Regions from separate parts of the Homo sapiens genome. Here region 1 is linked to region 2. The links come from fine-mapping of genetic effects on gene expression. A gene starts in region 2. The other region holds a variant in brackets. All regions are shown on one strand. Distances are from middle to middle. Region 1 overlaps PCBD2 (pterin-4 alpha-carbinolamine dehydratase 2). Region 2 holds the start of SEC24A (SEC24 homolog A, COPII component).

Evidence for each region. PIP is the estimated chance that this variant, and not a neighbour inherited with it, causes the effect.
Region 1: its variant is the best candidate, but not a certain one, in a credible set for the expression of SEC24A in whole blood (INTERVAL, PIP 0.54).

What each region holds. Positions count from the first base shown.
Region 1 is chr5:134,930,067-134,935,446 of GRCh38, reverse strand. All of the region lies in intron 2 of PCBD2 (pterin-4 alpha-carbinolamine dehydratase 2), which reads right to left. Among named protein-coding and RNA genes, the nearest start is that of PCBD2, 28 kb to the right of the region's middle. The variant G/A (reference allele first, on the strand shown) is at 2,547.
Region 2 is chr5:134,646,164-134,651,543 of GRCh38, reverse strand. It overlaps SEC24A (SEC24 homolog A, COPII component), which reads right to left and starts at 2,759. Exons shown (of 23, transcript NM_021982.3): 1 at 2,371-2,759. The coding sequence starts at 2,467. RefSeq lists enhancers at 2,574-3,111, 2,859-3,148, 3,159-3,218.

The DNA of each region.
Region 1 (5,380 bases), 280 kb before region 2:
TGCAGGTGTGCAAATCGTAACATGTGGGAGATGACTCAAAGGATAATGGGGAATAAAGGAGTTTAGGAAGGTCACATAAAGGAGGGAAAGGGATGAGGGCATGTACCCAATTTTCTAAGATGTCTTCAAACCCAAACCACTCCTGTTTAGGCAGATGCAGTGGCGCAGTCAGGCACGGGCAGCAGAGTCAACAGTTACATTTAAACCAGCAAAAGCAAAATGCTTCATAATTTACAACAACCCAATCAGATTGCTCATTCTTTTGAGGTTAAATGCTACTGACATAAGCTACACCTGAATCCAATCAGTGCAGAAACATTGAGAAGATTCACACGAAAGGACTAAATTTGTCACAAATGGGTTGGTTTCCGATCTTAATGTAGCCAAGTTGCTTTACTCTGACCTCCATTGAACAAATCAACTTAATGGGCACTAGGAGTGCTATAAAACTTAACAATGGAGTGATTTTTAACTTTTAAAATATAGTTATGAAGCAAAATGTTGGATAGCTTCTACAATACTGGAAATCAAATTAAATCTAGATGTTTTTTAACAGTCTTGACAGATATAATCCTAGTTACCATGTAAATTTATGGTAAGCTGCTGTGATATTAGCCACAGGTGCTACTTTTAATATATGAGCCGCATCTGGCTGGGAATAGAATTTCTCAGAGGACTGAAAATGACCTCACTATCAGACAATGGAAGGGAAAAAAACAAGACCACTGTGGCATATAAAAAGCTGAAGATGTGGTCCACAACTAAATATTTCACATAAAATTCATTTTAACTCTGCAGTTGTAGGTTAAAGGATATTATGCCTTCAATATTTAAGAGGCATAGATGTATTTCAACCAAAAAGCCGAAAGATTAAGAATGTAAGACAGTTATGAATACCGTGGCTACAAATATAATACTAGTTTTCCAATCTTTGATCAATGTCAGAAAAAATGATGCACTAAGACTTGAAAAGAGAATTATTTCATGGTTCCCAAGCACACGACCTGATTAGACACCACGGAGCATACCAAACCATGATGTAACAATTACTGATCTCTAAGCAGCAGCCACTCTCCAGCACCTGCCCAACATTACTGGTTGTGTTGTAAAAGTTCTTTGGGGTCATTCATCGGGCCCAAGAAAACATTTTCACCAAGTGAAATTTTTTTTTTTAAAATCATTATAAGTAATTAATTACCATTCTGAGTTTGAGAACCAGCAATATCACCCAGAGACAAATACAAAGGGGAAAGTACATGTCCCTTACTTATCCAATTCAAAAATAAAAACACAAATATGTATAAAACATGGAATTGTTTGCTTTCAGGAAACCCTTCCTGAACCACTCGAAAGCCATCATTTGCCACAGAACTAGCAAGTGTGGAAATGTGATAGAGGATTTACAAAGATTTAATTTCCTATGAAATAACTCTTCCTGAATTAAACAAGCCTTCTTTATCCGAAAAAACTCTCTAAAAGAGAAATATTTCTGTGAAAATATTTCCTACACCATTGCACTAAGCTGTGAGAATGGTGGCTACAAAGCCCTATAACATAACATTTTCCTTCTGGCTGTCTCAAGTAACTTGAAGGGCTTGATTTTTTAGCTTCAATGGATCAATTCTATCTAGGTGATGATTTCTATTTACTTTTTTAACAGGTGACTGGATCTATTCCTGATCTCAATGGGCATGGAGATCCTGAGTATATTTAGCAAGAACTACCCAGTACAGCTCCCTGACACTTTTGTGTCCAACTGACAGCATTAATACGGAGCATTTAGAAAAGGTGGGCTCACAAAGCCTCTTCTGTGAGGATGGTTACCGTAGAAAGGGATTGGCTAAATTAAATATGGCTTTTTTGTTCAATGGAATAATTTATATATCTCCCACCATTCAAAATCGTGTGGTAAGCCAGCTGCAGTGGCTCATGCCTACAGTCCCAGAACTTTGGGAGGCTGAGGTGGGTGGACTGCTTGAACCCAGGAGTTCAAGACCAGCCTGCGCAATATGGCAAAACCCAGTCTCTACAAAAAATACAAAAATTAGCCGGGTGTGGTGGCGCATGCCTGTAGTCCCAGCTACTCAGGAGGCTGAGGTAGGAGGATCATCTGAGCCCAGAAGATAGAGGCTGCAGTGAGCCAAGATGGCACTACTGAATCCTGCATAGGTGACACAGTGAGACCCTGTCTCAAAAAACAAAACAAAAAATCATGAGGTAAAATATTTTACTGATGTGAAAATATTCACTATACATGAAATGAAAGAAGCAACTGACCAAAAATATCTATAATATGATCCCAAATATATATACATACATAAACATTCACACAAATGCACATTCACAGCGTTTTTAAGTGAGCAGAAAGATTACAGGTATATTTTTCTTCTTTATACTTTTCTGTTTTCCAAATTATAAAACATATTATGCAATCATAAAAAAAAATTTATTTACCAGCTGAACATGCCACTCAAATGTTAACAGGAGGGTATCATTCCTATTAGAATGAGAGGCCTGGTGGATGTGGATCTCTGTGGAGTATGAGT[G/A]ACCTATAAATGTTAAACCCTTCTATTTAAAGCTCACAGTTTTAAACACATAGAAAAATGGAAGAGACTCACCCACAAGCTTACATAACAGAATCATAGTTTAAGAAACTCCGAATTGGCCAGGTGTGGTGACTCTCGCCTGTAATCACAGCACTTTGGGAGGCCAAGATGGGAGGATCGCTTGAGGCCAGGAATTCAAGACCAGCCTGGGCAACATAGTGAGATCCCATCTCCACAAAAAAAAGTAAAATTAAAAAATTTGCCAGGGGTGGGCATGGTGGCTCACATCTATAATCCCTGCCTGAGAAGGCAGGGGGGATCACTTGAGGTCAGGAGTTCAAGACCAGCCTGGCCAACATGGTGAATCCATGTTGCTACTAAAAATACAAAAATTAGCTGAGCGTGGTGGCGCATCCCTGTAATCCCAGCTACTTGAGAGGCTGAAGCAGGAGAATTGCTTGAACCCAGGAGACGGAGGTTGCAGTGAGCTGAGATCGCACCACTGCATTCCAGCCTGGGTGACAGAGCAAGACTACAACTCAAATAAAAAAAAAAATTAGCCAGGCAATGTGGCATGCATCTATAGTCCCAGCTACTCAGGAGGCGGAGGTAGGAGGATCGCTTGAGCCCAGTAATTTGAGGCTACAGTAAGCTACGATCACGTCGCTGCACTCCAATCTAAGCAACAGAGACCCCATCTCTTAAAAAATAATAAAAAGAAACAAAAAAAAATTGTTTAAAGAAACTCAGAATTAAAATGGCCCTCTCTTCTATGCATCTGTATCCACAGCTATACGGTTAGTGGCTTCGATGTTTATCTTCTGTATGCAGAGTTCCACTTCTCCAAATAAAGTTTTCAGCTGCTCTCTGCAGACCTATCTGGAAGTGACTTTCCCCTCTAGATAGATGCTCACCTCCAATCTGTAACAGACTTAGAACTGATCATTGATCAATCCAGTATTATAAACTAATGCTTTCAGGGTAGGGCATAGGGAACCATGTAGCAATTTACAAGTCAAATTCCTTTCAGTAGCTGGCAATCTTTTTCTTCAAAACATGCAAATAACATACGCCTCCTTTAAGCACTCCAAAATAAACATTTCTTCCTAAACAGAACAGATTCAATTCTGAATAGCAGAGTTGCCCATTCAAAGCTCTAAGACATTCCTAAACAAAACTGCAATCCATATCCTTTGTTATTCTACAATTCTTCAAAATACAGACTTGTGTTAAGAGAAGAGCAGTCACCTTAGGGTGGGATATCTGGCCTTGGAATGATGGTCCCACTGCCCACTTCCTCTGGAAGTTTGAGCAAGCTCTTTAACTTCCCTGACTTTTCCACCATTAGCAAAATGGGAATACGAACACCTAACCTTAGGAGGCTTCTGGGAAGCTTCAATGAAACAACCTATGTTAGTTCATAGGTCACCTAACAATGAGCTACTATACCCAATAGACACTCAAACACTCATTAGTTCATAAAATACTTTGTAACCCTCTAATCTGTCACAAAGAAAACTGATTTGGCTGCATTTCAGGTAAATGATGCAATATTAAGAGTTACCTGTGTACAGAATGACCTTAAAGCAACATTTTTATATCCAAATTTCTAAAATTAATTCCTCAAATTACTGCCAATATATTTTAGCTTTTCTTTATAGCACACCACCAAGTTATGATTCAAAAAAAAGAAAAAGAAGGCCGGCGCGGTGGCCAAAGTGCTGGGAGGCCAAGGCAGGCAGATTACGAGGTCAGGAGATCGAGACCATCCTGGCTAACACGGTGAAACCCTGTCTTTACTAAAAATAAAAAAAAATTAGCCGGGCATGGTGGTGGGTGCCTGTAGTCCCAGCTACTCGGTAGGCTGAGGTGGGAGAATGGCGTGAACCTGGGAGGTGAAGGTTGCAGTGAGCCACGATCATGCCACTGCATTCCAGCGTGGGCAACAGAGCAAGACTCTGTCTCAAAAAACAAAAAGAAAAAGAAAAATCAGCCAAGAACGCTGGACCAGTGGTCACAGAAAAGGAAAGGGAAAGAAAGAATTTGAGATTAAAGAATTGTCTTGAAACAGAAATGAATGCCTAATGGATAGCCAGCGAACAGGCCTGTGGCAGCCTCCCAGTGTGGTATTTGGTCGAGTATCTGCCACTGGCCCTCAGGACATCAATATTCTCATCCGATTGTGGCTGTAGTTGTGGGTGGCTGAAACCGTGGTGCTAAAATACTGAATGCCAGTCTTAGTCTCTCTCATGGTTGGAGACAACTGACTAGAGACACCATGAGCAGCCATTTTCTTCTCTGATGTCTCAGTACTGCATGCAGAACAAAGGCACAATCAATGCTGCTGTTCTGGGAAGCACCCTGTGGCAATGCAGAGCACCCTCTCTCATCTCTCAGACACAGCAACTTAGCAGCCAGATAAGCTGGTCACCATTAGGAATCATCGATATCTAGGAGTAAGGAGATGAGGGAGAGGAAAAGTCCCTGGTGAGAAAGGGTTGTATGTATCCTACAGGGAACAAAAAGATGAAACACTATGTTCCCCTGGGACTAAGTGCACTGACTAGGATCACCCATGGGGAACCTAATCATGGGCCCTCATGCATTCAAAATACAACTAGGTAACCCTGGGCTAGGTACTATGGGAGATGTACACAGGTACAATCCAAGTCTCTGTCCTCAAGCTGCTTATACCTTAGCTGGAGAGAGACATGAGTAAACAGTTACATGACCCTGTTCATAATCTAAGTTGCATTTAGTCTTGTCCTAACTTTGCCACTAGTTCGTTGTCACCCTGGGCAAACTACATTACCCCTGGGCTTCAGTTGCCCCAT
Region 2 (5,380 bases):
TGGGCGGATCATTATGAGGTTTGGAGTTCAAGACCAGCCTGGCCAACATGGTGAAACCCCATCTCTACTAAAAATACAAAAATTAGCCGGTTGTGGTGGCACAGGCCTGTAATCCCAGCTACTCGGGAGGCTGAGGCACGAGAATCACTTGAACCTGAGACATGGAGGTTGCAGTGAGCCGAGATCGAGCCATTGTACTCCAGCCTGGGCAACAGAGTGAAACTCTGACTCAAAAAATAATAATAAAATATATACATTATATATATATATTATATACTTATATAAAAAATGGGGCCTGGTGGTATGCACCTGTAGTTCTAGCTACTGGGGAGGCTGAGGTGTGAGGATTGCTTGAGCCCAGGAGTGACAGTGAGTTGTGATCCTGCCACTGCACTCCAGCTTGAGGGACAGTTTAAGTAAGATCCTGTCTCAAAAAAAAAAAAAAGGCAAAATACAAAAAACCTGTAGAGGCCAGGCACAGTGGCTCATGCCTGTAATCCCAGCACTTTGGGAGACCAAGGTGGGTGGATCACTAGAGGTCAGGAGTTTGACATCAGCCTGACCAGCATGGTGAAACCCCGTCTCTACTAAAAATATAAAAATTAGCTGGGTGTGGTGACACGTGCCTGTAATCCCAGCTACTTCAGAGGCTGAGGCAGGAGAATTGCTTGAACCTGGGAGGAGGAGGTTGCAGTGAGCCGAGATAGCGCCATTGCACTCCAGCCTGGGAGACAAAAGCAAAACTCCGTCTCAAAAAACAAACAAACAAACAAACAAACAAAAAACCCTGTAGAAATGGAACTTATAAAAAGACTATGAAAATTATATTTTAAAAAAGAGGTCTGGGTACCGTGGATCAGGCCTGTAATTACAGCACTTTGGAAGGTTAAGGAGGCAGGAGAATCGCTTGAACCCAGGAATCAGAGGTTGCAGTGAGCCAAGATCACCACCACTGCACTCCAGCCTGGGCAACAGAACAAGACTCCATCTCAAAAAAAAAAAAAAAGATGTGGAACAAATGTCTGTTGGACTGTATCAAATCAACATAGTGACAGTATCTCTAATACAGCATACCACAGTGGTCAAATCCCTTTAACATTTCAATATTATGACAACTACACTCATATATAAATGTTGAAGCACATTTGAGGATTTGTCATTTAAAGTTAATGTAAAACTGCAATTTATAGATTATAAGAAAAATCCATAGCCATGTAACATTTTTTCTCATCCTCAGTGTAAATGTTACTAAATATTCTAGAATAAAATGTAGTGTACATAATCTGTTACCATAATTTTGAGAAAGAATGGTTAACTCAGTACCCTTTCAGTGGCTTTCCTCCACTTATTCTTTCTTCTGCCCACATAGTTGCCTACTCACAGACATTTTTAAAAGTCTTTTAGAGCCATCTTTGTAAAGAAAACAGCGGTCTTCTCTAAAAACAATGTAAATTAGAGATTTTAGTCACTGTCTGTATTCTCCAACTTCACAGAACTCTTAGACTCTAATGGGCAACTTAAGTTCTTTAGCATTATTCTACTAGTCTTATTTCTGTAAACCAAAGATTTGTAAGTAAATTGGTAAGTAGGCAATCTGTCGGCAGAAAGTCTTTGTCTATTGTAACAACTGAAATAATCTTAGCAAATCACAATGTAGGACGATTTAAGGAATCCTAGAAGAGGTATAAAATTATAAGACATTCTCACATCAAATGACAAACTATAATGTACATGTAGACTCTTGTCAGAGATTCAGAGAGTTGTGTCCACCCACTTTCCAAATGCTGTCCAGACATCTAGAAGTCAACCAGGAGATCCTCCCTTCTATTTGGTTTTTCCACAGCTGAAACATTGAACAGCTGTTGTAGGTACAATTCTGGGAAGGTTCTGGGAGAGATGAGTAGGCCCTAAAGGGGTGTCCCAAAAGCATGCATTCATCTCCAGAAACTCAGACTGAGTACGACCCCCACCCCACTTCAGGGCCTGCGGAACCCAGAAGAATCAGACCCCACATCCTGCTCTCTAGGAGACTGGGGTGAGGTGGCAAGGAAGGCGAAGGCACACAAACACTATGATCCTTATATTCGAGTTTTGAGGCATTTTCTCACCCGTGTTTCACCCAGGGCGTTGCATACAGCAGGTGCTCATTTACTGTTTTGGTGACCGACTAAATAAATGTGAAAGACTGAGACGAGCCTGGGGCTACAGGTGCACAACTGCCGTGGTCCCCTGGCCCAGCCGCCCACCACCATCCGCGCCAGAACCCGGTAAGGAGGTCACTCTCTCTATCTATGTCGCCTCAAGCAGCAGTGGCACGCAAAGGTCAGTCAGCCCTGGCCAGGCTGCGCCCTCCCCCCGGACAGCACTCACCGTTGGTGTAGGGAGACCCCGAGGCCAAGGCGGCTCCGTTCTGGGCCTGGAGGCTGGCTGGGGCGCCGCCGGAGGCCGGTATTCCCGGCTGGGACATGATGACTGGGTTGGAAGGGGCTGGTCGGGGTCGACAACAGCGCACAAGAAGAGAGCTGAAAGACCACTGCTGAAAGCGGAGGGAGGAGGCTAACGACTTAAGACTGAAGACTGGGAGAAGAGGGGGGGGCGCATTAAGCCCGAGGCATGGCGCCGCACTCTCCCCAGGCCACCGGCGGCCACAGCCTAGCCTGGGAGCTGAGGCTTGAGAGTCGGGCCGGCGGGGCCGCGAACGCCCGGCTAGAAGGCGGCAGCCAAACCTAGAGAGAAGGAGGGAGGCCCTGGCCGGAAGTGCCTGTCAGCCGCCGGCCGCGCAGCCGCAATCAGGACACGTGGCACTTCCGGCTCCGGGCTCGCAGCAGCCGCCGCCGCGCCGGCGAACTCTTCTCTGCCAGCCGGGCTGCCCCGAGGCCACCTGACAGCTCCTGGTGCCCCGACCCCGACGACCGTGCCCGGCCTCGCCGCCACGTCACCGACTCTCACGGCCGGCCGGAAGTGCCGTGTGTCACCGCTACGGAAATTCCCGCCGTTGTGAACGTGACCTCGCTCGCAGAGCCAGGATCGTGGGGCAATCTGAGATTCAGTAGCCGCTTTCGTGGGGTGGGACTGACAGTTCCTCTCCTCGGGTTTTGTGAAGATTACCTGAGACCATAGAAGTCATCGTCCTCTGTTGAGACCGTACCACCACTGGGAGCTGGGGCGGTTAATGTTCATCGCAGTATTTCATTCACATTTCGTCTTCGTGTTTCAGATGTAAATTATAAGGGGTTTTAAAAAGAGGTGGTTAAATATGTGTACATGTTAATAGTGTGATCAAGCCAAGAAGGAGGCCTTTGTCTTTGACTGGAGGACTCAGAGGAATTTTAATTTTGAAACTCGCTGATTCACAGCATAGTCACGCTCAAGTTCATTAGCACATTTAAATGGCAGTTTTGTTTCCTCTTCTAAGAGTTTACAGTAAGGTAAAGAACTCAAACTTCCTTTCAGAGCAAGTAGACTTTTTTTTTTTTTGCAAGTTGACTTTTTTGACTTTTGAAGCCAAAGGGAGGTCGAAACTGCGGTGATTGGACAACATAGTTAATTAATGATTGAGTAATCATCTTAGCTGCCTTCATTCTATTTAGGTTTTTCCTGCTCTGTGCTGACGATAAAGCCCTCCTTTACAGATTTGTACTGTGGATTAAAATGTCATGCCACGCGGTTTCGAAACCTCAGTGTGAAGTACATCTTACCTAATTCATTTAATACCAAATGCCTGCTATGAAGTGTTATATTACATACAAAAAAAAGCCAGATCTAAACCACTGTGTCGGGCTGGGCAAGGTGGCTCACTCCTGTAATCCAAGCACTTTGGGAGGCTGAGACAGAAGGATTACTTGAGGCCAGGAGTTTGAGACCAGTCTGGACAACAGGGAGAGTCCCCTTATCTCTATTTAAAAAATATATATATATATATATTTTTGAGACAGAGTCTTGGTCTGTTGCCCAGGCTGGAGTGCAGTGGTGCCATCTCCGCTCACTGCAACCTCCGCCTCCTGGGTTCAAGCAATTCTCCTGCCTCAGTCTCCCGAGTAGCTGGGATTACAGGCTCCTGCCACCATGCCTGGCTAATTTTTGTATTTTTAGTAGAGACAGGGTTTCACCATGTTGGCCAGGCTGGTCTTGAACACCTGACCTCAGTTGATCCACCCGCCTCAGCCTCCCAAAGTGCTGGGATTACAGGCGTAAGCCACCATGCCCAGCCAATGTTTTTAATTAAATAAATTTTTAAAAAGTGGCCAGTGTGGTGGCACATCCCTGTAGTCCCAGCTACTCAGGAGGCTGATGTGGGAGGATCACCTGAACCCAGGAGTTCGAGGCTACAGTGAGCTGTGATCTCACCACTGCACTCCAGCCTGCATGACAGAGTGAGATCTTGTCTCTAAGAAAAGAAAAAGAATAAACCACTGTGTCAGGCCTAAAAAAGGTCAGTAAAAATTCAAATAACTAAATACTAAATTTTATACTAACCCTGTTTTCATCATTTGCCTCAGAACTTTACTAAAAATGTATTTGCTCGGGCGTGGTAGCTTACAACTGTAATCCCAGCACTTTGGGAGGCCAAGGCGGGCGGATTACCTGAGGTCAGGAGTTCAAAACCAGCCTGGCCAACATGGTGAAACTCTGTCTCTACTGAAAATACAAAAATTAGCCAGGTGTGGTGGCACATGCCTGTAATCCCAGCTACTCAGGAGGATGAGGCAGGAGAATTGCTTGAACCCAGGAGACGGAGGTTGCTGTGAGCCAAGATTGTGCCACTGCACTCCAGCCTGGCTGACACAGCAAGACTGTCTCAAAAAATAAAAAATAAAAATAAATAAATATTTGCTGTAAGTAGCATTTAACAATTCAATTCCTTTGTACAAGATCCAAGTACAATAACTTTTTTTTTTTTTTTGAGACAGTCTGTTGTCCAGGCTGGAGTGCAGTGGTGCAGTCACAGCTCATTGCTGCCTCAACCTCCTGGGCTCAAGCAGTCCTCCAGCCTCAGCCTCCTGAGTAGCTGGAACTACAGGTGTGTGCCATTATGCCTGGCTAGGTTTTTATTTGTTTGTTTGTTTGTTTGTTTGTTTTTGTAAAGAGAAGGTCTTGCAAGAGATCCTCCTGCCTCATCCTTCCAAAATGAGATTACAGGTTTGAGCCACCACGCCCAGTTAAAATCTTAAGATGAAGATGATACTTTTGGTCAAATTGTTTACAGTTTGGAGCCACTATAACAAAATCCCAAGTTATAGATCCAAAAACACTTTAAAATTGCACAGACACAAGCCTCTCAATGTTTTGAAGAGGAAATAGAGCTCAGAGAGAAACAACCTTTCTGAGGTCAGACAAAATCAGGGTCACTCTTCAAAGAGGCAAATACCTGATCTCAAAC